7 linked regions of the Homo sapiens genome follow. The protein of the gene in region 1 interacts with the protein of each later gene in a biochemical or structural test. Each region holds a gene or a part of one and is shown on either strand. Other genes may lie near its edges. The genes, in order: APBB1, TSHZ2, ALK, ABI1, ELMO1, CYFIP1 and CPSF7.

Evidence for each region.
Region 2: the proteins of APBB1 (region 1) and TSHZ2 form a complex in vitro, tested with the Homo sapiens proteins (one study listed by BioGRID).
Region 3: of the proteins of APBB1 (region 1) and ALK, one has a biochemical effect on the other in vitro, tested with the Homo sapiens proteins (one study listed by BioGRID).
Region 4: the proteins of APBB1 (region 1) and ABI1 form a complex in vitro, tested with the Homo sapiens proteins (one study listed by BioGRID).
Region 5: the proteins of APBB1 (region 1) and ELMO1 form a complex in vitro, tested with the Homo sapiens proteins (one study listed by BioGRID).
Region 6: the proteins of APBB1 (region 1) and CYFIP1 form a complex in vitro, tested with the Homo sapiens proteins (one study listed by BioGRID).
Region 7: the proteins of APBB1 (region 1) and CPSF7 form a complex in vitro, tested with the Homo sapiens proteins (one study listed by BioGRID).

Annotation. Positions count from the first base shown.
Region 1 is NC_000011.10:6,405,595-6,409,094, forward strand, and holds part of APBB1 (amyloid beta precursor protein binding family B member 1), read right to left. Parts: intron 70-3,500; exon of another isoform or gene 1-69. UniProt on the Homo sapiens protein: Transcription coregulator that can have both coactivator and corepressor functions. Adapter protein that forms a transcriptionally active complex with the gamma-secretase-derived amyloid precursor protein (APP) intracellular domain.
Region 2 is NC_000020.11:52,978,858-52,982,357, forward strand, and holds part of TSHZ2 (teashirt homolog 2), read left to right. Parts: intron 1-3,500. UniProt on the Homo sapiens protein: Probable transcriptional regulator involved in developmental processes. May act as a transcriptional repressor.
Region 3 is NC_000002.12:29,218,587-29,222,086, reverse strand, and holds part of ALK (ALK tyrosine kinase receptor isoform 1 precursor), read left to right. Parts: intron 1-1,251; coding exon 1,252-1,381; intron 1,382-3,500. UniProt on the Homo sapiens protein: Neuronal receptor tyrosine kinase that is essentially and transiently expressed in specific regions of the central and peripheral nervous systems and plays an important role in the genesis and differentiation of the nervous system.
Region 4 is NC_000010.11:26,850,959-26,854,458, forward strand, and holds part of ABI1 (abl interactor 1), read right to left. Parts: intron 1-3,500. UniProt on the Homo sapiens protein: May act in negative regulation of cell growth and transformation by interacting with nonreceptor tyrosine kinases ABL1 and/or ABL2. May play a role in regulation of EGF-induced Erk pathway activation. Involved in cytoskeletal reorganization and EGFR signaling.
Region 5 is NC_000007.14:37,225,365-37,228,864, reverse strand, and holds part of ELMO1 (engulfment and cell motility protein 1), read left to right. Parts: intron 1-3,500. UniProt on the Homo sapiens protein: Involved in cytoskeletal rearrangements required for phagocytosis of apoptotic cells and cell motility. Acts in association with DOCK1 and CRK. Was initially proposed to be required in complex with DOCK1 to activate Rac Rho small GTPases.
Region 6 is NC_000015.10:22,973,869-22,977,368, reverse strand, and holds part of CYFIP1 (cytoplasmic FMR1-interacting protein 1), read left to right. Parts: intron 1-3,500. UniProt on the Homo sapiens protein: Component of the CYFIP1-EIF4E-FMR1 complex which binds to the mRNA cap and mediates translational repression. In the CYFIP1-EIF4E-FMR1 complex this subunit is an adapter between EIF4E and FMR1.
Region 7 is NC_000011.10:61,416,476-61,419,975, forward strand, and holds part of CPSF7 (cleavage and polyadenylation specificity factor subunit 7), read right to left. Parts: coding exon 3,474-3,500; coding exon of another isoform or gene 3,447-3,473; intron 45-3,446; coding exon 1-44.

The sequences.
Region 1 (3,500 bases):
CCAAGGTGGCTGCACACCTGACGAGAGTTATTCAGGCAGGGTGCTTCACCATCCTCAGCTTCCAAATGACGTGGGCCCACAGACACCCAAAGAGGAGGGGCTCTTGCCCATCCACCTTCTAGGCAGCCATCACCGCCTCTCCTCACCCCCACTTCCCCCTAACTCACACTCTATGGAATAAGGTTTTCAATAGGCACCTGAAACTTAGCTGAGGCTCAGGGAATACCTGCTGTTCCCTAGAGACCCTCCATTGCCTCAGGACTCTCCTGCTAAAACCTTCCAGGAACAGCACCCTAGGGCCTCCATGCCCTCCACAGCCACAGCCTGCTTCATGAGGGCTGGCTGGACACTTCTGGAATCTGGGGACCAGTTCACCATCTCCTGACTGAGTCACACACACCAATCCATCTGCCATCCCTGTCAGCCTGTACCTTCCTGCTTCAAAGAGCTTCATCCTTCCGATCTGTCCTGGAAGGGCAGTTTCTCCCCCCTTGGCCATCTGGGAGGCCCTTCTGGAGCTTGGCACATCTCCCTCCAAGCGCAGCCCACCCCGGCCTTTGCTTTCACACACATGCATTTATTCCAGAACGCACACCTTCACTCCTGCATCGATTCATGCGACACTTACATATAAAATACATTAAATGTTCACGTATCATTCCTTCCTTCCTTCATTCGTTCATCCACAAATGCCTTAGTGGTGAAGCCAGGTGTACTCACTTGCTCAGGAATCAGTGATTGACTTAAAGCTTTCCCCTTCTCTCCACCCCACATAACTAACATAGCCCAGGCTACTAGCTTTTTTTTTTTTAACCTGCATCATTGCAAAAACATCATAACTGGTCTTTCTCTTCCTATCTGGTCTCCTCCAATCTCAGCTGCACAGTACAGCCCAAATGATTCTTCTGAGATGCTAAACTAATCAAGTAATTTTCCAACGGAATCCTCTTAATTGTTTTGTCACTGCCCTCAGGATAAAGTCCAAATTCCTCCCCAGGTTTTATGTGCTGTCATGAACCCCTGTCTGCCTCTCAGCCTTACCTCCAGCCACTCCCCTTCTCTCTCTTTGCTTGGGACATGCCCCCTTGTCCTCTCCCAGCCCACCTCCCTTACTCTCGATTTTCACCTGGCTATCACCTACCTCTCCTTCAGACATCAGTATACAGGTCCCTTCTTAAAACTGACCCATTGCCCTCTCCCCCACCACTCTCACAGGCAGGGTCAGGGGCCCCTCCTGTACTTCCCCAGCCCCAGAGAGCTCATCGCACTGATCATAACCACTTGTTTCTTTCTTTGTCTCCTCACCAGGCTGTGAAGGCCAGGAGGTAAGAACATCTTTGCCCCATAGTATACATTTCCAGCATTTACGATAAGGCCTGGAGCAGAGTATGAATTCAATACAGGTAGTAAAGTTTATTCATTCATCATTCATTTAATTCATGAATTCATGCATTTATGCATTCAATCCATAGCTCTATGAATATCCTACAATAGGAAGGAGAATATAATTTTTGCTCAATTCTAGCCTCATTTCTGCAGGAGCACAAACCTTCTCTGCAGCCCTCATGGTCATAGCAACACAGTTGTAAAAGAGTGACTTGGCCCCTTTCCTGGGCTGGCCCCCACCTCTATCCTCAATTCACAATGTCTCCACCAGTGCATGATCCTTGAGAATCCTCTTGCCACTCCAACATCCTTGCTGAGGTCACTGCCCAGCAAACCCGCCCCAGCTCTTCAGCAGTACTATCCCCCTACTCCTAGAAGCTTCATAGGTAGTTCAGAGTTGCAGCCCCCACAGTGACCATCCCAGGGGCAAGTGAGCAACTAGGCCTCTATTTGGTCACTGACTCACACCCCCTAGTCTTGCAAACTTCCAACCTACAACCTGCAGACTGATGCAAGCCTCAGATAGATTGTGTGTGGCCTGCACAGTGCTTTTTAAAAAATAGAATTTGTTGTTAACGTTTAGAAATTGGGCTATTTTACACCAATATCTAGTTTTCAGTTTCCCTTTAACTGGCTGCATTGAGACTATATTTTTCCTCACCCCAATCCCAAAAATAATCAGCTGGAGTGCAGGAGGGGCTGTTCCTTTTAAAAGGAGTTGAGACAATGACCACCAAAGGCCACTAACATCACAAAAAAGAGAGGCAATCAGACTTTGCCTTTAGTAGAAGTATTTTTTTTTTTTTTTTTGAGACGGAGTCTCGCTCTGTCGCCCGGGCCGGACTGCGGACTGCAGTGGCGCAATCTCGGCTCACTGCAAGCTCCGCTTCCCGGGTTCACGCCATTCTCCTGCCTCAGCCTCCCGAGTAGCTGGGACTACAGGCGCCCGCCACCGCGCCCGGCTAATTTTTTGTATTTTTAGTAGAGACGGGGTTTCACCTTGTTAGCCAGTATGGTCTCGATCTCCTGACCTCATGATCCACCCGCCTCGGCCTCCCAAAGTGCTGGGATTACAGGCGTGAGCCACCGCGCCCGGCCTAGTAGAAGTATTTAATACCACCTATGAAATATTCTTGCAAAAGCAAAACACAAAAATGCTCAAATCTGAATCTGATCAAGGCTCTAGAACTAACTACCAATTTACAGGAAATCCAGGGGAAGAGGAGCATGGTAAATATGACCACAGGAGAGAGTCTGAAAAATCCAAACCATAGAAAACTCAGGACAAGCAACATGATTCTCCAGTTAAAAAACAAAAGCAAAACTGCAAACAACAACAACGAAAAAAATAGAAGGGGAACTTGATCAAACATAACTTTAACAGATAGATCAGGCCAGACATGGTTGCTCACACCTGTAAGCCTAGTGCTTTGGGAAGCCAAGGTAGGAGGATTGTTTGAGAACAGGAGTTCAAGACCAGCCTGGGCAACATGGTGAGACACTGTCTCTACATTTTTTTTTTCCTTCTTTTTTTTTTTTTTGAGAAGGAGTCTCGCTCTTATTGCCCAGGCTGGAGTACAATGGCTCTATCTCAGCTCACCACAACCTCTGTCTCCCGGGTTCAAGTGATTCTCCTGCCTCAACCTCCCGAGTAGCTGGGATTACAGGCGTTTGTAACCACGCCCAGCTAATTTTGTATTTTTAGTAGAGACAAGGTTTCACCATGTTGGCCAGGCTGATCTCGAACTCCTGACCTCACGTGATCCACCTGCCTCGGCCTCCCAAAGTGCTGGGATTACAGGCATAAGCCACCATGCCCAGCCAATGTTTGTGTTTTTTGTAGAGACAGGGTTTCACCATGTTAACCAGGCTGTTTCTGAACTCCTGGCCTCAAGCAATCCACCCACCTTAGCCTTTCAAAATGCTGGGATTACAGGCGTGAGCCACTGTGCCCAGGCTCAATCCAGCCTTTTTTTGGCAGGATATTTAATGATATTAAAGAATTATTATTAAATTTTTGTAGGTACAATAATGATATTGTGGTGGGTTTTTTTTTTAAGAGTTTTATCTTTCAGAAATGCAAAAGTAAACTGTTGTTGTTGTTGTTGAGAAAG
Region 2 (3,500 bases), on another chromosome or scaffold:
ATCAGGGAGAGCTTATCCTTCTATCTTTATAGAGTCTGCTTACCCCAGAATAGGTTTTTACATTCATTTTTCAGTAATTTGTAACAATTGGTATTTTTAATTTTTTTTTTAAGTTTTACAAGTTCTATTTAAAGTTAGAAATTCTCACATTCCTTAGGGTGATCTTTGGCAAGCAGCTCTTCGATTATAGGAGGAAGTTAGTCATTCTAACCACATAAGAAAGTGGAGAGTACTTGCTTGCTTACCTGAATATTACAGTAAGAAAAAAACACCATCTATTTACATGCCTCTAACATGTAACACTATTTTCACTGGATTTATAATTTCTTTTTTTTTTCCTCCTACTGACCTTTCATTCACTTGTTTTGGGAACTTTTTCTGAGAAGAACGTTTAGAGATAGCATTTAAAGTGGATTTCAAGATACATCAGATTTTAAGACATTGTAATAAAAATTAGAGACTTCAGAGCCCAACGGTTCACTGCTAGTCTAGGTCTGCAAACTAATGAGAAAGCACCTCTGCAAACACATAGTTTCAACTTTAACTTGCACATGAATGGGGAGCGTCTCCAGCAGTGTGGCCGTATCCATATTGCTCATTTTGTCCGAGAAATTATTTTGTCCAAGGGTATCAGACTGAGGTCCGTTCAAAGACATTATATACATACACAGAGACACAGAAGAGAAATCTGAGATGCGAGTGGGAATTGCTGATATATTTGTTTCCAAAGCAAACTCCATGAATGAAATGATTCAATAATTTGGAGGCATTTGAAAGTCATTAAAATGGCCATTTGGAATTTTCAGTTGTTGCCTCCCTCAATTTTTTACGTTTCCCCTGTAGAAAAAGACATCCTCTGGGCACCCTCAAATATTCTGGGATGCTAAAGTCATGCTAAAATTATTTACAATTTTAGAAATTAAAATTCAGGAGGCACAGCAAGATAATCCGATTATTAATATATCAGTATTATTTAGCTATGCATAACAACAGGAAAACGCACAATGCAAAAGTTTTAGAGATAATGAGCTTAGAGAAATTACATGGGGGGAAGAAATACCTGGATCATATTTGAAAGCATTTGTCTTGAATTCTGCTCATCTAAATGAGAGCTCTCTTTCTACCTGTGTCATTTAAAAAACAATTTCAATATCCTCCTACCTGCTACCCCAGCCTGAAGCAGGGACTAATGAAACTCTCTCTGGACACACAGATGTAAGACACTATATTACACAACACTTTTTAAAAAATTGTTTCAGAAAACCAAATGTGGGCATGCAAACCAAAAGAAAAACCTCAAGGATCTTCGTAAGATAGCTAGCTCAGGGTTCAAGATCAAGAGAACTTTGTTGCGGCAGGATAAGAAGACAACAGCATTGCGTTTTAGCTAAACATCTCTTCTTGGCAAATGAGAAGCGGTGAAGCAGGGAAGATTTTTTTAAGGAGCTTTTTAGCTCTTTTGCATCTCTCTCCAAAGACTAATTTAATTGAAAAGCTGTAGTGTCCATTTATGATTAAGGAAAGGCCTCATGTTTCCACAACACTGCTAGACACTAAGGTGGGTTTGAAGAAAAAAAAAAAAAGGCCAGCATTCTGCAGTTTCTGTTAGTATAAAAATTAAGATCACTGGTCTTAATTACTTGAGTGCTTTCAGAACTGAAGGAATACTCTAAAATCACCCCTGAGCTTTCTTCTTAAAGCCACATCTAAGCCATTTCTATGGAAATTATATAGTTTAGATATTAAGGTGGGTAGAATACAGTTATTGCTTTTAATGAAAATAGTTACGAAGGGCAGAATGAGATAAAAACAGAGTTGGCAGCAGCCATTCTATTTGTAATGAATTTGAAAGAAACTTCCGTAATGCTTTACTGGATCATGAAAAACCCATGAAACCTTGTGACATGGGAGATACAAAAATGAGACAGAGGGTCAAGGTCTTCTATAGGGGAAAAATGGCTTGTGTAAGTGAGAGCAGTGGCATATAAATATCTCTATATAAACTGCACAGGGCTTACTTTAAATCACTTCAATTTATCAGATCCTTGGAATTTTTTTTATGTATTTAGGAGCCTCTCTTTTATACCCCAGAGAGATATGAATAGCTTCTGGGCCAAGATGATGCTGTAGAGAAGAGTCAAATCTATTCTATGTGCACGGTGCCATTTGGTACAGAAGAAATGCCAAAATGAAAAGCCATAAATGCGTTTTATATCAGAATTGCCTTTGGCTATTTTCCTTTATTAGAAAGTTGGGTACACTGCTGAGTGCTTCTTCTTGTTTTCCCCCTTGGGATTAGATTTGAGACTGTGGATGGAACAGCGGAGTAAGGGCAAGTGACTTGGGTTCTGGTTGCAGCCTTGCCCCACGCTAGTTATTTAGCCCCGGGCAAGCTCTAGAGATAAACCTTACTCTCCGGGTAAGAATGTGAGTTTTTGGAGTCAGACTGATTGAAGTTCAAGTCTCTAGGTCTAATTCTTATTCGGCCGCGTAAACTTGGGCAGGCTGCTCAAATCTCTGCCCTCCACTTTCTAATCTATAAAATGGGGGCAATCATATGTTCCAGGTGTGTGGAAAGGATTGTGTCAGAGGAGGGCTGAGAAAGTGTGCTGAAACTGTTAGGCACCACAGGGATACGAGGGAATAGTGTGTCTTTACCCTGAATAACCAGACTATGGAAAATTTATATTAACTGGGAAACAAGCAACTTACCAGTTATCACAGAACAAGGGGTCCAGGGCTTGAAAGAAACCAGATATGGATGGATTTTGATTTGTAAGCCTGGAAACACAATGGCTAAGCAGTGTTTTAGCCTCTTCTCCTGAGGCAGACTCATTCTGGGCTGTTTGGAGTCCAGCACCCGCTCAAAAAAGAGTTTCTTTCCCAAGAAATAGAATTTATAGCACCACCAACAACGGTAACAATGGTAACAATGATATCTGCCACTAAACAAGTGCTTTTTACATACCACGTGCTTTATATGTTTACATTTATTCGTTTACACGGCAGTTATTTCTTGAGTTCCTACTATGTGTCAGATGCTGTTCTACTACCTGGACCTGGAGGTGAATAGGATGGGGATGATCCCTGGGGATCTTGCCCTCCAATTGGGGGAAGCTAGAGAATATACAAAGAAATTTATAAAGGAAAAGATAATTTCAGTATAGAAAAAAAGCTTCATGATGGCAATAGCTTTATAAAAGCAAAATTATGAGAGCAGGAGTTGGGACAACAGAGATGTAGATGGTCAGGGGAGACCTCTCAGAGGAGGGGACATCTGGGCTAAGTCCTGTTCCTTATAACTTTCAAGTATAATCCCTGTTTTACTGATGAGAATCTGAGTAAGTTGCAGGATAACTCATTCAAGTTCGTGCGGTAGCCAAGCTGAGTTTTAAACTCAGCTCTTCCTGCTTCCAAAGTCCATGCATTTAATTTATTATGATCGTTTATCTAGAATAGTCATAGCGAGTTGCCAGGAAGGACCCAAGGAAGAACCCTCA
Region 3 (3,500 bases), on another chromosome or scaffold:
TATCCACTGGTTCTTCTTCCCTCACTTTTTCTTAAGAAATGGAGCATGCTAGACTTTGACAGTACAAGATATAATCTCCCTCCAAGACCCTTCACCAATCCCAGTAATTGTGCTTCTAATATGATGGGAGGCCACCCCATCCTAGGCTCCCATCAGCAGGGCTGAGTCTCAGCTGGCTGCACCTTTTGACTTGAGGCTCCAAGATCTGGATTTAAGCTGAGAGTCTCAGTGCCTATGGCTCCTGAGGGCGTCCGCTGTGACAGCAGATCCCCTCAAGGAGGGGGCAGATATTTGACCTCAAGATCAGGTGGGGGCTCATGGCCCCCTGTCACACTGGGAAGACTCTGAACGTCCTGACAGGTGGGGGCAGACTGGGATGTCCCCTTGGTGGAAGTGGCAGGGGTAACAAGGCCAGGCAGTGTGAGTGATATGGCTGTGAGGTCTGGAACCACAGGAGGACACACAAAATAACATTTATTTTCTGATGATACATATAATTCCTGATTATGAATAAAACTTGGCAAGTATGAGATTATATTGAAGAAGACCCATATCACTCAAATCTCACTACTTGGTGGTAACTAACCATTATTATGTTGGTGTCTAATCACCCAGTCTTTCAACACTTGGGGGGCTGTGTGTACATGTGTGTATGCACACACATGCATGTTGGCCCATGTGGAATTCCTAGGCCCTACTGCCCTGTGTGTCCTAAAGGGATCATGTTAACAAGAAAACCCAAGTCTTGGTCCCTCCCATGAGGAATCCACGGGAAACTGATAGACTCGTGAGGCCATCCCCTTTTGCTGGCTCTGTTTCACACGCTGTCACTTGGCAAGTCTCACCCAGTCTCTCTTGGAAGCAGTTGTTTTGCTTCACCTTCTGCCTGAGGCCTTCCTGGGAGAAATCGACCATGAATTCTAGCACCCAGTCCACGCACCAGTATCTGAGAAAGACACTCTCCTGCCCCCTGAGACACTTCCTCACCCAAGTGCCTGAGCAACATCCTCACAGCTCCAGCCACTCTCCTGCAAATGGAACTCCTGTGGAGCCTGCTGTGGTTCTTCCCACCTGCTCACCAGCAAGATTCTGGGTTTAGGCTCAGCCCGGGACCCCTGCTGCCCATGTTTACAGAATGCCTTTATACATTGTAGCTGCTGAAAATGTAACTTTGTATCCTGTTCCTCCCAGTTTAAGATTTGCCCAGACTCAGCTCAGTTAATTTTGGTTACATCCCTCTCTGCTCTGCAGCAAATTCAACCACCAGAACATTGTTCGCTGCATTGGGGTGAGCCTGCAATCCCTGCCCCGGTTCATCCTGCTGGAGCTCATGGCGGGGGGAGACCTCAAGTCCTTCCTCCGAGAGACCCGCCCTCGCCCGGTGAGTGAGAACCAGTCTTTGCTGCAGTTGTTGTGCCAAGGACAGGAGCAAGGATGGAAGGAGCAAGAGTGGGCAGCCTGGGTAGCAAGTTCCTCGATGGAACCCAGGGTGTCAACTTTAGGCTTGGACAGGGGGGTGACTGACTGGCTGGAAGAGAATGGACAGAAGATAGAGGTAGATGATGGCTGAGCCCCAGCCCCAAGGAGCTTGTGCAAGGCTCCTGCAATGCATTTGTATTAGTCCATTCTTGCATTTATATAAGAACTACCTGACTCTGAGTAATTTACAAAGAAAAGAGATTTAAGTGGCTCATAGTTCTGCAGGCTGTACAGGAAGCATGGTTGGGGAGGCCTCAGGAAACTTACAATCATTGCAGAAGGTGAAGGGGAAGGAGGCACGTCTTACATGGCAGGAGCAGAATGAAGGGGGAAGCGCTGTACACTTTTAAACAACCAGGTCTCATGAGAACTCACTCACTATCATGAGAATAGCAAGGGGGAAATCCACCCATGGTCCAATCACCTCCCACCAGGCCCCTCCTCCAACACTAGGGATTACAATTCAACGTAAGATTTGGGCAGGGACACAAATCCAAACCATATCCACATTCTATAGCCTGGATCCATTCTCATGGCCTGCTGACTCTGGAAAACCAAACTAGAGACAAACACAGAGGAGAACTTTCATGACAGCCATGTAACTACTCAAGCAACTGACCTGGGCAGGTCACTCTGCAGCTACTCATTCAGAGCCCACAGTCCTCACGTCTCAAGTAGGGATAATAATACCTGGACATTCCAACCGTATATTTAGGAAGGTGCTACACACATCTTATGGTTAACAGAGCTTGGGAAGTGAAGATACCCAGGGTGGACCCAGGAATCCCAAGCTCCAGCTCCAACTTGGCCATTAGACACCCGTGTAGTTTAGGGCAGTCTTAAACCTTTAACCTGGGTATCCTCACAGGTGAGATCTGAGGATTGGACTAGAACATCTCAAAGGTGGTTCTAAATTATTAAACATAGCACCCTGGGCAGACCCAGAGCCCAGCTGCCCATGCTTGGGTCTGCAGGTCTTCAGCAGGCCCCGGATACCAGGAACTGGAGCTGAGCAGGCCCCAAGGTTAGGATCCAGGCTTCCTCAACGAACCACTGTACTATGGGGATCACAAGGAAGACTTGCACAGTAAAAGCAGCGGCCACCCTCCCGCTCCCAGGAAAGGAGGGAAGACTGACAGCCAGTGGTTCCAGAAAGCCCAACCTGACCACACTGCTCAAAGGGACTCAAAGTGGTGATGGAAGCCCTGCAAGGTCATAGCTATTCTGATCTCCACCTTCAGTCAGGATCCATGTAAAATACCTTCACCTTAGCCACTGGGTGACGCATCTCAGTATCTAAGAAGAATACTGTCTTACCCCTTGAGAAGAGGAATTTGTGTGCACCTGAGCATACCTGGCAGGAGGACTGGGCAGGGAGCAGGGAGATAAAGACTACACCTGTCTGTCTCATAAGAGCCCTCATCAGCTGGCATCCTCCTCAGACCTTTCACATTTCTCAACACCACCCTATGAACAGACAATGCAGGTCTCTCCCCAATTCTATGGATGAGAAAACGGTGGCCCAGAGAGATTACGGGACTTGCCATGGCCACACAGGAAGTGGAAGAGCTGGGACTAGAACTCAGGCCTTGTGACTCTTGATTCAGTGCCCTCTCCAACTTACTGCTTATCCAGTGGTCCCCTCTGGGAAGCTGTAAACTATCAAGATGAGGTTGTGTCCTTAGAGCCAACACTGCCAGGCATCCAGGCATCTCTGCCATGGTACAGGCATCAGATTCACTGGCTTTCCCACCACCACCTAGGAAGGCAGAGCCTTTGGCCCTCATGCCCTGAGATTCTCAGCAGCACTGCTGTCAGTGGGGGACACGTGGCATCACACTTTGGGAAGAGGCACAGCCCTGGTTCTCCCACTGGACCTTCCTGAGGCTTAAGGAGAGAAAGTTGTATGCATGCAAAGGAGAGGGACTTTGCAAAGGGAGTCTGGGAGCCCAGCACTTGGCAAGTTCAAGGACTTCGGGGGCAGGAGATGGCAGGAGTGAGGAGTGGTGTGTCTCTATCTC
Region 4 (3,500 bases), on another chromosome or scaffold:
TGGGCCAGAGAGTAATAGGAAAAGCATGAAAGAAAGGTCTATCAGAGAAGCCAAAGGATTAACTTCTCAAAAAAAGTAGGAAAAACCAACCATGCAAAATGATGCAGAGAAAAAAAGCACATGAGAACTAAAATGGGAAAGAATTTTGCAACATGGAGGTTATTAGCATTCAGAGAGCAGTGGAAATAGAACAGGTTAAAGAGTGAATGAAAAGTGGGAGATGGAGGAAAATGCTTGGTTTTTTGTTTTTATTTTAAAAGACAGGGTTTCACTGTTGCCCAGGCTGGAGTGCAGTGGCGCAACCATAGCTCACTGCAGCCTCAAACTCCTGGGCTCAAGTGATCCTCCCACCTCAGTCTGCCAAGTAGCTGGGACTACAGACTAAGCTAATTTTTTTTTTTTTTTTTTTTTTTTTTGAGACAGGGTCTTGCTTTGTTACCCAAGCTGATCTCAAACTCCTGGGCTCAAGCAATCCTCCCACCTCAACCTCCCAAGTAACTGGGATTACAGACTTGAGCCACTGCAGCTAGCTGACAATAGTGTAATAAAACTAGTTAATCCATAAAGGAGAGATAGGTCAGTTACTAGATGAGTATATGAAGTCAAAAGAGTTTTCAAGTACGACAGAGATCTGAAATGTTTCAATTGTGAAAGCACAAATTCAGTAAAGAGAGGAGGTATAAACTTATCAGGAGCATAAGGTTTACAAAAAGGCAGGACAGGATATGACCCACAGTTAGGACTTTAGCTAGGAGGAAGAATGTCTCTCTTCCATTATAAAAAGGAGTAGAATAGGGTGAGCGAGGATAGCAGGTTTGGAGATGCAGTGGTAAGAAATTATAGGTCTTATATGATGAAGTCTATTTTCTCTATGAACCAAAAGACAAGAAAGGAAAGGGTCAGATTTCAAAAAGGGAGAAAAAAATTAAAATAGTTTGTGGTAAGTGGAAGAACAAACTGGCGAGGTTATCTAGTGGGATTGCCTAACTATGTTGAGGGCGCACTTTTGAGTAATAATCAATTTTAAAATGACACCCATGAGCTGAGCATGGTGGGAGGGGCTTGGGGGGAAAGTCTGTAGACCCAGCTACTCAGGAGGCTGAGATGGGAGGATCGCTTGACCCCAGAATTACGAGGACAGCTGGGGAACATAGGAGACCCCAACCCTCATAAAAATTAAAAATAAAATGGCACCCATGTACTCTTTTCTCTATATTGCCTTATTAAAATAAGAATCTGGGCCGAGCACGGTGGCTCACGCCTGTAATCCCAACATTTTGGGAGGCCGAGATGGGTGGATCACCTGAGGTTGGGAGTTCGAGACCAGCCTGACCAACATGGAGAAACCCTGTCTCTACTAAAAATACAAAATTAGCCAGGCGTGGTGGCGCATCCCTGTAATCCCAGCTACTCAGGATGCCGAGGCAGGAGAATTGATTGAACCCAGGAGGCAGAAGTTGAGGTGAGCAGAGATTGTGCCATTATACTCTAGCCTGGGCAACAAGAACGAAACTCTGTCTCAAAAAAATAAAATAAAATAAGCATCTGTTGTTACAACTCTTAAGTTGCTAATATTTGACGTAGTAGGAAACATCTTTTTCTATATGATATAATATATACATTTCTGATGTTTAAGTGGAGGGCATTAATTTCCCATGGGTTCTGAAAAAGTGCCACACTTGCCTTTCCATAGAAGGAAAAATAAAATGTACCAAATACAATTTTGTCAAAGAATGTAGAAATTATTAATAAAAATTAATGATAAAGCATTCAGGAAATGAGTGAATTAAAGGTAAATTGAAGTTTTTCAAAAATGTGTTTTTGCTGGTCGGGCATGGTGGCTCACGCCTGTAATCCCAACACTTCGGGAGGCCAAGGCAGGAGGATCACTTGAGTCCAGGAGTTCAGGACAAACCTGGGCAACACGGCAAAATCCCATCTCTACAAAAATTACAAAAAATTAGCTGGGTGTGGTCCCTCATTAACAGATTTTCTTCATAAACACGGGTTCACTACCAACTATGTCTGAGAAAGTTTTATTTTGTAGATGGAGAAAATTAGTAGATCCAAAGTTAAAAGTACTTATTTGGATTGACACACAGTAGTCAAATCTCAAGTCTCCATTCTAAGGGATGGATATTTACTGTTAAAATGACCACGTCAACTATTTCCTTTAAAAACAAAATCGATGGCGTGAACCCGGGAGGCGGAGCTTGCAGTGAGCCGAGATCACACCACTGCACTCCGGCCTGGGTGACAGAGCGAGACTCCATCTCAAAAAAAAAAAAAAAAAAAATCCAGTAATTGCTACTTTCCTATTGTCTTATTTCTCAACAATGCCCTTTTTTTTTTTTAAAAAAAATCCCTTTTTTCTAACATGATGTCTTAGTAAATATTAAGATCTACAAAGTTTGTAGTTCTGGGGTTTGACTATTATTTCTTCTACAATCAAACCATAATTTCAATAAATATTACAATCAACACAAGATGATATTAGGAAAAATATACAACCTCCCAATCAAAACTTTGTAAATGCTTCAAAATTAGCATTAACTATCAATTTTACCTTACTTTTTTTTTTTTTTTTTTTTGAGACGGAGTCTCGCTCTGTCACCCAGGCTGCCAGGCTGGAGTTCAGTGGCACAATCTCAGCTCACTGCAAGCTCCGCCTCCGGGTTCACGCCATTCAGCCGCCTCAGCCTCCCAGGTAGCTGGGACTACAGATGCCCGCCACCACACCCAGCTAACTTTGTTTCTGTATTTTTAGTAGAGACGGGGTTTCACCATGTTAGCCAGGATGGTCTCGATCTTCTGACCTCATGATCCGCCCGCCTCATCCTCCCAAAGTGCTGGGATTACAGGTGTGAGCCACCACGCCCAGCCTTTACCTTACTTTTCATGCCAACACTATTTTCATGGGTTTTATAGATTTATATCTGCACAATATCCTAGAGTTTGATCCAACCTCTTGTCCCAATATGAACACTCTTCCTTTCTGGCTAACATATTTTTGACTGTTAACTGTCTTAATTCTTAGGACATAATTTCACTGAATATAAATAAGGTTACTGTAAATGGTCACACAGCAGATCCCCAGTTGCCTAAATATCTCCTTTCCACAAGGACTATTAGCATTCCTGAGCTATCAGAATCAACTGGAGAACGCAGAAGCACACAAGAAAAATTTGCAAGTATCCTAAGAGATTATTTCAATAATTTTCTAAGAAAACTCTCCAAAAGACAGAAGCATGCTAAAATTGAGGTTCTAAACAGACCAGGACTAGTCAGAAGTACTACATATAAAGCTGTTATTAGTATTAAAGCCACAAAAGAAAAAAGAGAAGACATTAGTTTTAATACAAATTTGCAAATATTATATAGTCCTAAAAATATGCAGTATTCTCACCTTGAGAGTATTAGCAAGAACTGATATATGTGATATGGACTTTCATAAGAACTGATATGCTGGGTTCACAGACTTGGTGTGAAAGAAGAAAAAA
Region 5 (3,500 bases), on another chromosome or scaffold:
GCCCACCACCACGCCTGGCTAATTTTTTGTATTTTTAGTAGAGATGGGGGTTTCACCATGTTAGCCGATCTCCTGACCTCGTGATCCACCCGCCTCGGCCTCCCAAAGTTCTGGGATTACAGGTGTGAGCCACTGTGCCCGGCCCTCCATGATTCTTTTAGGTTTTGATAACATAGGAGAATTTTAAGATCTCATTCTAAGTGATTCTAAGAAGTATTTATTGGATCGTTGATTCATGCACTGTAATGCCCCTTAGCTTCTTAAAAGTTACATAAGTATTTCTCTTATTTAGCCAAGATTTTTAAATGAATGAGCAGTACAAGGAGCTAGTGTGTATAATTAATTACTGCTAACTCCTCTTGCTTCTTCCTTATGTTACAGGCCTACTTTCGAGAAGCTGTACTGTGGCTGGCTTGGGTTGGCTCACTTGTGTCACCCAAAAGTACAGTAATGGAGCTGGGATAAATTGAAAGGCAGAGGGAATCATTATTACTCTTTTGGGGGATAAAGGAAATGAAAATTTAAATAGGCATGAATAACCTTCTCTAGCTATATGAAGATCTATAGTTTTCAAACTGGACGTAGAGACATGTGTCCATTAACTAATTTATACATTCAGTTATAAGGAGTTGGTCTCAAGCTCCCTGGAGGACGACAGTTATTACATTCACTTGGATCAGCCCTGATGCGTTGGTTATTAATACTCATTAAGTGGAAGTATTAGGTCATTTGAATATCTGGCTAAAACCAGTGACAAATAAAACAAAAGAAAGAAGTTAAGTTTCAGAAAACCATTAGCATCTACTTCAGACTTGTACATAGGACTGTAATGCATTGAGTGCCCCAGGTGTGTTACACAAAATGCTCATTATGTAACATGCTTTAGGATTGCTGAAATGATTAGTTTATTTATGTCAAGGAAGAGGTGAATTACTAGGAACATGAATTTTAAAGAATACTTTCATGAAAGTAAGGGATTCATTTCTTAGGAGAAAAATAATGAATGGAAATGGAATATGTATGTGGGATATAAATATGCCTGAATTAAAGCAAAGACAGCAAATTATTTTTACCACCATTGAGCAAGCCCACTGGCAGCAGAGAAGAGTTAATGATTTATAGAGAACTTTAAAACCCATTATGAGAAGGTATACTTCATATCAGAAAACACTGAGTGTAGGCTGGGTACCGTGGCTCATGCCTGTAATCCCAGCACTTTGGGAGGCCGAGGCGGGTGGATTACTTGAGGTCAGGAGTTCGATATCAGCCTGGCCAATCTGGTGAAATGCCATCTCTACTAAAAATAGAAAAATTAGCTTGGCGTGGTGGTGCATGCCTGTAATCCCAGCTACTTAAGAGGCTGAGGCAGGAGAATTGCTTGAACTGGAGAGGTGGAGGTTGCAGTGAACTGAGATCATACCATTGCACTCCAGCCTGGGCAACAGAGCAAGATTCCGTCTCAAAAAATAAAAAATAAAAAAGAAGAAAACACTGAGAGTTCTGATTGAATATTTCAAGAAAGGAAATATTGTAAAAAGGATATTTATGGAAGTAGGCAACTAATTCAGGGGGTAAATTTCCATTTGATGGAAAACTTGAACATAAAATAAACTGCAGAAGATTATGTTTCAGTAACCCAGCAATGAGTTAGACCACTGGGCCAGTGTTATTTGTATATACTCTGTATCAAAACGGAGACATGTCAGATGTATCACAGGGATATAAAATAGGCAGCTGGAAATATGAATCACCAGTGATTATGGATTCTTAGAAAAGAGTGATAATTGGGAAGAGAGGAGTAGGAAGACAATGAGATTGATAATCCCCCTTTTTAATTTTTGGCTTTTTTGGAATATCCAAATGGTGGCATCCTTTTGGATGCCAAGAATAGGCCCGCAGTGTACTTCATAGTAAATGCCTTTTTATCTGTCCATACTAGACTGTAAGGTCCTTGAAGTTTGTTATTTTCATCTTTGTATTTCCAGCTCTGTGGGACAGGGCAAGCCTGTTACATAGTACACACGCAATGCATGTTACTGAAATGGATCACTTAATGATGAGTAAATATTGGCTGAATGAAAAGAGTGGATAAAGATGGAGGCGGAGGGTGCTTGACAATATCAGCAACAGCTTCTCAGGCAGAAGCCTCCATGCATCCTTAAGGCACATCCAAATTTAATAAATAGAGACAAGCAGGGGAGCCGGGAATGAGGAGAAAATTAGTTGCAAGAAAATCTGAAGTATTGTCAATGAATTTCTTTATGAGTTCTTCAGTTTCCTAATACCAGTGCCAAGAATTATGCCGAGAGCGTGAAAAATGGTTTGGTGGGGTGGGGGAGGAGTCAGATAATTTATCCTCTGTTTAGAAGATGTCTAAGTTAAGTATTAAACCCTGAACACAGTGTGACAATAATTGGATTTTTGTCAGAGAAAGATGGACCTAGGGAAAGAAGGGTGGCCTTAGCATGGTAGATTTGGTGGATTGGAGCAGACTGCGAGGAATAAGTCAAGGGCTTGCCAAGGATAGTAAACATGTCGGAGAAGGTTATTAGCCATGAGAAGAGCTGAAGCAGTCTTTTGAGAACCTGAAAATTTCCATACTCTTCCTGAAGTTTGTATTTTAAAATAATAGCTTTTCGGAATGTAAAATCATAATGTCACTGCACTTCTTCACATTATTTCCCACCCCTGAGATCCAGATGTAGCTGGGGTAGGCAGAGTGTTGGTATCTGCGTCTCCCACCCCTCCTTTCACCTGGAAATCAGCGGACTAGGGACAATTCCGATGGTACCTGGGAACTGCCATGGTGTGCTGTGCATTTATCATGTGCAAAGATGGAGAGGAGATGAGGCAAGTGGTCTCTGGGGCAGCAAAAAAGGGAGAAATTAGTGTTGACAGGGGGGAAGCAGCAAGAGTTTACTTGTCGTGGAACCAAGTTATTTAGCTTTTAAGAACAGTCATTATGCTGATATAATAATGGCTTTTTATTGTGAGCTGTCAACAGACAGTAATAACTTTTAATGAGGCCTCTAAAATAAAACCTTTATGGTACCCATGTGTTTGGATTACTGCGATCCATTATTCTAACCTCTATTTTATTTTCCGCTCACATTGTGATTTATTATGTTTGGGGATTTAGTGATTAATTCCTTAGAGAATCTATTTTGGAGCTTAAAGTAGTATTTTAACTTTTAGTACTGCTCACTTAAATGATTTCCTGTTTGCTAAATTTGGGAGAGATGAAAAGAACTTGTTTTAACCATCAGAAATTGGAAGAAAGGGGTAACGAGTTTTTCGTTTAAGAGAGTGGCCGGTGACTGAGAAGTTGCCAGTTGAATTGTGTTGACAAGTGAGATTTGTGCGAGTCCCTTAAGAATGCAACAAGAACATAATAAGCATATAAAAGCCATGGATTGTGTGGATGAAGGAGTAGCCTGGGAATGCAAGAGGAATGGCAATTAACATATGTTGACATTACCATCCCAGAGAAACACAGGTAT
Region 6 (3,500 bases), on another chromosome or scaffold:
TACAAATTGGAAAGGGAAAATTGTCCCTATTTGCTGACAACATGATTATCTACATAGAAAATCCAGGGAATCTATGAAAAAGCTACTAGAACTAATTAATGAGGTTAGCAAGGTCACAAGATACAAAGTCAACACACAGAAGGCGACCTTATTTTTCTTTTTTTTTTTTGAGACAGAGTTTCATTCTTGTTGCCCAGGCTAGAGTGCAATGGTGCGATCTCGGCCCACCGCAACCTCTGCCTCCCGGGTTCAAGCGATTCTCCTGCCTCAGCCTCCCGAGTAGCTGGGATTACAGGCATGTGCCACCATGTCTGGCTAATTTTGTGTTTTTAGTAGAGATGGGGTTTCTCCGTGTTGGTCAGGCTGGTCTGGAACTCCCAACCTCAGGTGATCCGCCTGCCTCGGCCTCCCAAAGTGCTAGGATTATAGGCGTGAGCCACCGGGCCCGGCCTGGCGACCTTATTTCTGCATACAGCAGTGCCCCTTATCCATGGGGAGATACATGCAAAGTCAACACTATACAAGCTGACCTTATTTCTGTTTACAACAGTCCTTGTTATCCATGGACGATACGTTCCAATGGAAGCCTGAAACCTGAGATAAGACAGAACCCTCCGTGTACTGTGGTTTTTTTCCCTATACATCTATGCCTATGATAAAGCTTAATTTACAAATTAGGCGCAGTAAGAGATTACCAACAATAACTGTTCATAATATAGAATAATTATATACTGAATAAAAGTTATATAAATGTGTTCTCTCTTTCAAAATATCTTTTTGTATGCACTCACCTATTTTTGGAGGGCAGTTGACTGTAGGCAGCTATAACTGGGGAAACAGAAATTGCAGATAATGAAACTACAGGTAAGTGGGGACTACTGTACTAGCAATGTACAATTAGAAAGTTAAATTTGGCTGGGCGTGGTTGCTCACGCCTGTAATCCCAGCACTTTGGGAGGCCGAGGCGGGCGGATCACAAGGGCAGGAGTTCGAGACCAGCCTGGCCAACATAGTGAAACCCTGTCTCTACTAAAAATACAAAAATTAGTTGGGCATGGTGGCGTGCGCCTGTAGTCCCAGCTACTCAGGAGGCTGAAGCAGGAGAATCGCCTGAACCCGGGAGGCGGAGGTTGTGGTGAGCCGAGATCGCGCCACTGCAGTCCAGCCTGGGCAACAGAGCGAGACTCCGTCTCAAAAAAAAAAAAAGAAAATTAAATTTAAAAACACAACATTTCGTTTGCTTCAAAGGAATCAAATACTTAGGTATACATTGAATAAGACTTACAGGATCTGTATGCTGAAGATGAGAGAAATCAAAGATCATTTAAGTAAATGGGGGAACATACCATGGTCAGTGGTTGGAACACTCAACATAGTAAAGACATCAGTTCTCTTCATATTGATCTATAAATTTAACCCAATTCCAATTTAAAAATATTAGCATGCTTTAAAAACAAAAATTTTAAACAAAAATTTTGTTTATTGAGGTATAATATACCTACTTTATAAAATTCACCTACTTTTAAGTATACGTTTGGCTGGCCTGTGAACGAGGGGGTTAGGGATTCCAACCCCCTGTGCAGTTGAAAATCCGAGTGTAACTTTTTTTGAGATGGAGTTTCGCTCTTATTGCCCAGGATAGAGTGCAATGGCACGATCTTGGCACACTGCAACCTCTGCCTCCTGGGTTTAAGCCATTCTCCTGCCTCAGCCTCCCAAGTAGCTTGGATTACAGGCATGCGCCACCACTCCCACTAATTTTGTATTTTTAGTAGAGAGGGGGTTTCACTGTGTTGGTCAGGCTGATCTCGACCTCCTGACCTCAGGTGATCTGCCCGCCTCTGCCTCTGCCTCCCAGAGTGCTGGGATTACAGGCGTTAGCCACCGAGCCTGGCCTTTAACCTTTTTTTTTTTTTTTTTTTTTTTTGAGACGGAGTCTCGCTCTGTCTCGGCTCACTGCAAGCTCTGCCTCCCGGGTTCAAGCGATTCTCCTGCCTCGGCCTCCTGAGTAGCTGAGATTACAGGCACCCGCCACCATGCCTGGCTAATTTTATATTTTTAGTAGAGATGGGATTTCACCATGTTGGCCAGGCTGGACAAGTATAACTTTTGACTTCTCAAAAGTTAAAACTACGTGACTTCCCAAAAGTTAAAACTACGAATAGCCTGCTATTGACCAGAAACCTTACTGATAACATAAACAGTTGATTAACAGAGATTTTGTAAGTTATATGTATTACATACTGTGTTCTCATAATAAAGTAAGCTAGAGAAAAGAAAATGTTGTTAAGAAAATCATGAGGAAGAGGAAATAAACTGACTACTCATCACGTGGAAGTGGATCATCAGAAAGGTCTCCATCCTCAAAAAGCTCACAGTGAGCAGGCCAAGGAGGAGGAAGTGGATGGGTTGGTTTTGCTGTCTTGGGGGTGGCAAAGGCAGAAGTGGAGGGAGGTGGAAGGAGGGGCTAGAGAGGCAGGCATACACCGTGTAACTTTTACTGGAAAAAGTCTGCAAATAAGTGGACCCGCATGGTTCAAACACGTGTTGTTTCAGGGACAACTATACAATAATTTTTAGAAGATTTCTGGAGCTGTGCAACAACCATCACCATAATCCAGTTTTTGTTTGTTTGTTTTGAGACAGGGTCTCACTCTGTCACCCAGGCTGGAGTGCAGTGGTGTGATCTCAGCTTACTGCAACCTCCGCCTCCTGGGTTCCAGTGATTCTCATGCCTCAGCTTCCCAAGTACCTGGGATTACAGGAGGTGCCACCAAGCCTGACTAATTTTTTTGCATTTTTAGTAGAGGAAGGGGTTTCACCGTGTTGGCCAGGCTGGTCTCGAACTCCTGGCCTCAAGTGATTCATCTGCCTCGGCCTCCCAGTACTGGGATTATAGGCATGAGCCATCGTGTCCGGCCTGTTTTTGTTTTTTTAATTTTAATTATTTTTTAAATGGAGATGGGGTATCACTATGTTGCCCAGGCTGGTCTTGAACTTCTGGGCTGGAGCAATCCTCCTTTCCTCCTGAAAGTGCTAGGATTACAGATGTGAGCCACCAGGCCCGGCCTTGCTCATCTGTTGATGGACAGTTAGGTTGATTCCATGTCTTGGCTGTTGTGAAAGGTGCTGCAATAAACATGGGGTACAGCGATCTCTTGGACATACGGATTTCATTTCTTTTAGATATATACCCAACAGTGGTGTTGCTGGGTCATATGGTAGTTCTATTTTTAATATTTTGAGGAACCCCCGGCACTGTTTTCTACAATGGCTATACTGATTTACATCTCCACCAACAGTGTACAAGGGTTTCCCTTTCTCCACACCCTGGACAACACTTGTTATCTTTTGCCTTTTTGACAAGAGCCAGTCTGACAGGTGTGAGGTGATAGCTCATTGTGGTTTTGATTTGGATTCCCTGATGATTAGCGATGTTGAGCATTTTTTCATACACCTGTTGGCCACTTGTACACCTTCTTTTGAGAAATATCCATTCA
Region 7 (3,500 bases), about 55 Mb from region 1:
AGCAGAATCACTAGAATCTCGGGAATGGGCCCGTGGAGGTATTCCTATGAAGCAAAACAGAACTGATGTTACTGCCCAGGCTTTACACAAACCCACAGGACCAGTTCATCCTTCAGAAGTTATCAGACACCCTACAAAGGAAGGTGACTAAAGAGGCTGAGAAGGTAAAATCATCTACTGCCTTTTTTTTGGCTTCAGAGGTCAGAAGCAACTCAGTGAAGACATTAAATCCAAAAAACAATATCGTCCTAAATCCTGTCAAAGAATGTTTTCCATCCATAACTCCAGAAGTGCTTCAGAACAGATTTAATTTATCCTTATATGTATCTTCTATTTTTAAATGTAGAAGGATCCTGATAGCCCACGAGAAAATGACAGTGTTCACTGATGTTCAGGTGAATTGCAGTTGACTTGAAACCCCACATCTCCTGAAGAGTTCAGGACCTCTCTCCTTAAACTAATACTAGTTAACCTCTTCCTGTTGCACACTTAAAATGTTCTCTTTGCCACAGGGTGTTGGCTAGGGAATTTAAGGGAAGAGAGGGAGTGGCAGGAACTGGATGGCACTTCTATTTACATACTAAAACTAGTAATCAGGGTGAGAAAGAGACACACATGAAGACTAGACAACTGGAGGTTAAGTGAAAGATAAGAAAAATTGGGAGATACGCCAATAAAAGATCCGCCCACAGCACAAGCAGATAGCACACAGCTGACAGTAAGGATGCTTAGCAAAAGCTTGCTACAAAACATGTCTCCAATCTGGGGAACTCCCGCTACATTTCAATGGCCAAAATCCTCTACCCTTCAGGGCAGCCTAACAGGAACACCATCACCACATGCTAGTATGGTGCTGTGCACAACAGGAGCTCAGAACATGTTTTAAACAGCTGGAAGCATGGATTCTGACATTGTCAAGTCACTTGGTTAAACTTGTTCCTTCTCTCCAGTTTAACAGTCTAAGCCTGTTTATTGTGGAATCCAATAGAAGAACAAGATCACATGGCTTTGGGGGGGTCTTGGAGATAGAAAGATGCCACTGGCAGCAAGTGTGGAGGAAAGAGTGCTCCTTAAACTAGAATATGATAGTTAATCCCAGCTCCTGAGTAAAGCCTAAGGTGGAATCAATTATGTTGACAACCACCTAGATTTCTCTTACAGAACAGTGCCAGTGCTGTCTTGTTCTTCAGGTCTCAAACACATGGCAACTGGCTCTTTCCTAGAGTTCTCTCAAACTGAAGAACAAAAAGGTATAAGGCAAGTGTCATCTGACAGTTAACCACTTTCCCAGCTACTACTGTTGTCACATCTGCAAAGGTTGTTTTGTATCTATGGCTACAAGTCCCAAAAGACGCAACATTTCTATGCAGAGGAAGTCCACCAGCTTTACTTAGTGAATTAACAGAGCCCAGGTCCATCAGCATGACAGAGCAGAAAAACAGCACTCAGTTACACAATCTTTTCAGCAAAAAAAAGTAACATGAAAAGTAGCTGAGTAGAAGTAGAACGTTACCCCCAATACAGTTGTAAAATTACATACCTAAGGAAAGTCAGGGGTGAATTACAGAAAGACTCCAAAACAGAGGGGACTTGAAAATACAACTTGTCAAGGAAGAAGAGTGTGTCCTTTCTAACATGGAACAACAAGAGTTCACACCAAATCTATCTAGGCTGTCAATCTAGTTAAAAGAACAGCTGTTCCTATGCAAGAGCAAAGTGGTCCTATTTCTACCTGGAGGATACACCCAATCAATACAAGGCACTATTTTGAGAGCTGGACCTAAGCAGTGACAGAACATCAGTGATGAAACTTTGCTGTTCCTCCCACTGTAGCAAAAGAAAATAAGGGTGGTTGGCTGTCTCAGGGAAGGTCTTGCAGGGTGGCTGCACTTTATGAGGTCAGGAAAATCCAAGGTCTAGTCCTCAGGTTTCTCAGGTTCAGAAACTTGCTTCAACTGGGGTGACTAGGCCCTAGGAGACTGATTCATGCTAACCAAACTCACAAGAGACTGATTCATAAACCATAACACCAATTTATTAATTTACAATGAGAAATGTAATTGCCAAGCAGACCAGAATACTTGTGTCGGCTGGTCAGCGAATTCTCTTCCTAGTAGGAGACCCTAATTGGGAAACCAAATTAGCATCAGAAAGTGGCTTAGTGAGTACAGTCAGAATAAAGAGAGTAAGATGGACATTGGGGAAACTGTCCTCAAACTAAGGTAGTTCTGAGGTAACTTTCTTTTTTCTTTTTTTTTTTTGAGACAGAGTCTCACTCTGTCACCCAGGCTGGAAGGCAGTGGTGCAATCTCAGGTCACTGCAACCTCCACCTCCTGGATTCAAGAGATTCACCTGCCTCAGACTCCCGAGTAGCTGAGATTATAAGCATGTGCCACCATAACTGGTTAAGTTTTGTATTTTTAGTAAAGACAGGGTTTTGCCATGTTGCCCAGGCTGGTCTCGAACTCCTGACCTCAGGTATCTGCCCGCCTCAGCCTTCCAAAGCACTGGGATTACAGGTGTGAGCCACCATGCCCAGCCCCTAACTTTTTTATTTTCCCTCCAAGATGGAGTCTTGCTCTGTTGCCCAGGCTGGAGTGCAGTGGTCTGATCTCAGCTCACAGCAACCTCCGTCTCCCGGGGTCAAGCAATTCTCCTGCCTCAGTCTCCCGTGTAGCTGGGATTACAGGCATGTGTCACCCACACCCGGCTAATTTTTGTATTCTTAGTAGAGATGGGGTTTCACCATGTTGGCCAGGCTGGTCTCAAACTCTTGACCTCGTGATCCACCCACCTCGGCCTCTCAAAGTGCTGGGATTATAGGCGTGAGCCACCGCGCCCGGCCTGTAACTTTCTTTACTAATGGGATATAACTGCCAAGCAGACTAAAACATTTGGTAATCAAAAGAGCACCCTCTCCCCTGGACAATGCTGGAGAAATATTGTTCAAGTCTTATTCTCCAACACTCCTCTTGGTTGATTCCTTACAGTATCCTTCCAATCAACGTTTATGAAAAGATTATAGGCACCTTTTAGTTACATTTTAGGGTGGCTGCTTCTTGATAATTTATAGAGAGGCATGTCTTAAAAATTAAGCCCATTCACCTAATGCCAAGTTTTAGACAGAAACACAGAATTTAGAGGTGATGGAACTTTAAACATCATGTCACTAGTCCAGATGGGGAAACAGGCCCTAAGTAGTAAAGTGACTTGGCCAAGGTCACACGAGTCAGTGGCAGAACCAAACTACAACCTGAACCTACTTGACTCCCAGCACAATGCTCTTTCTTCTATATAGACCTATTCTGAGGACTACTTGTCGACCATGACACCACTCACAACCACCATCACCCTCCCCCAAACTCACCCACACTGTAGGCTAAGCCTACACCATAGAAAACAAACCCACAAACACCCCCCCCTCATACAGATGGTCTCCACGTACCCCCTCTTGGGACTCGGACACACTCACGTTTCCGAGCCTGTGCCTCAAACTGTG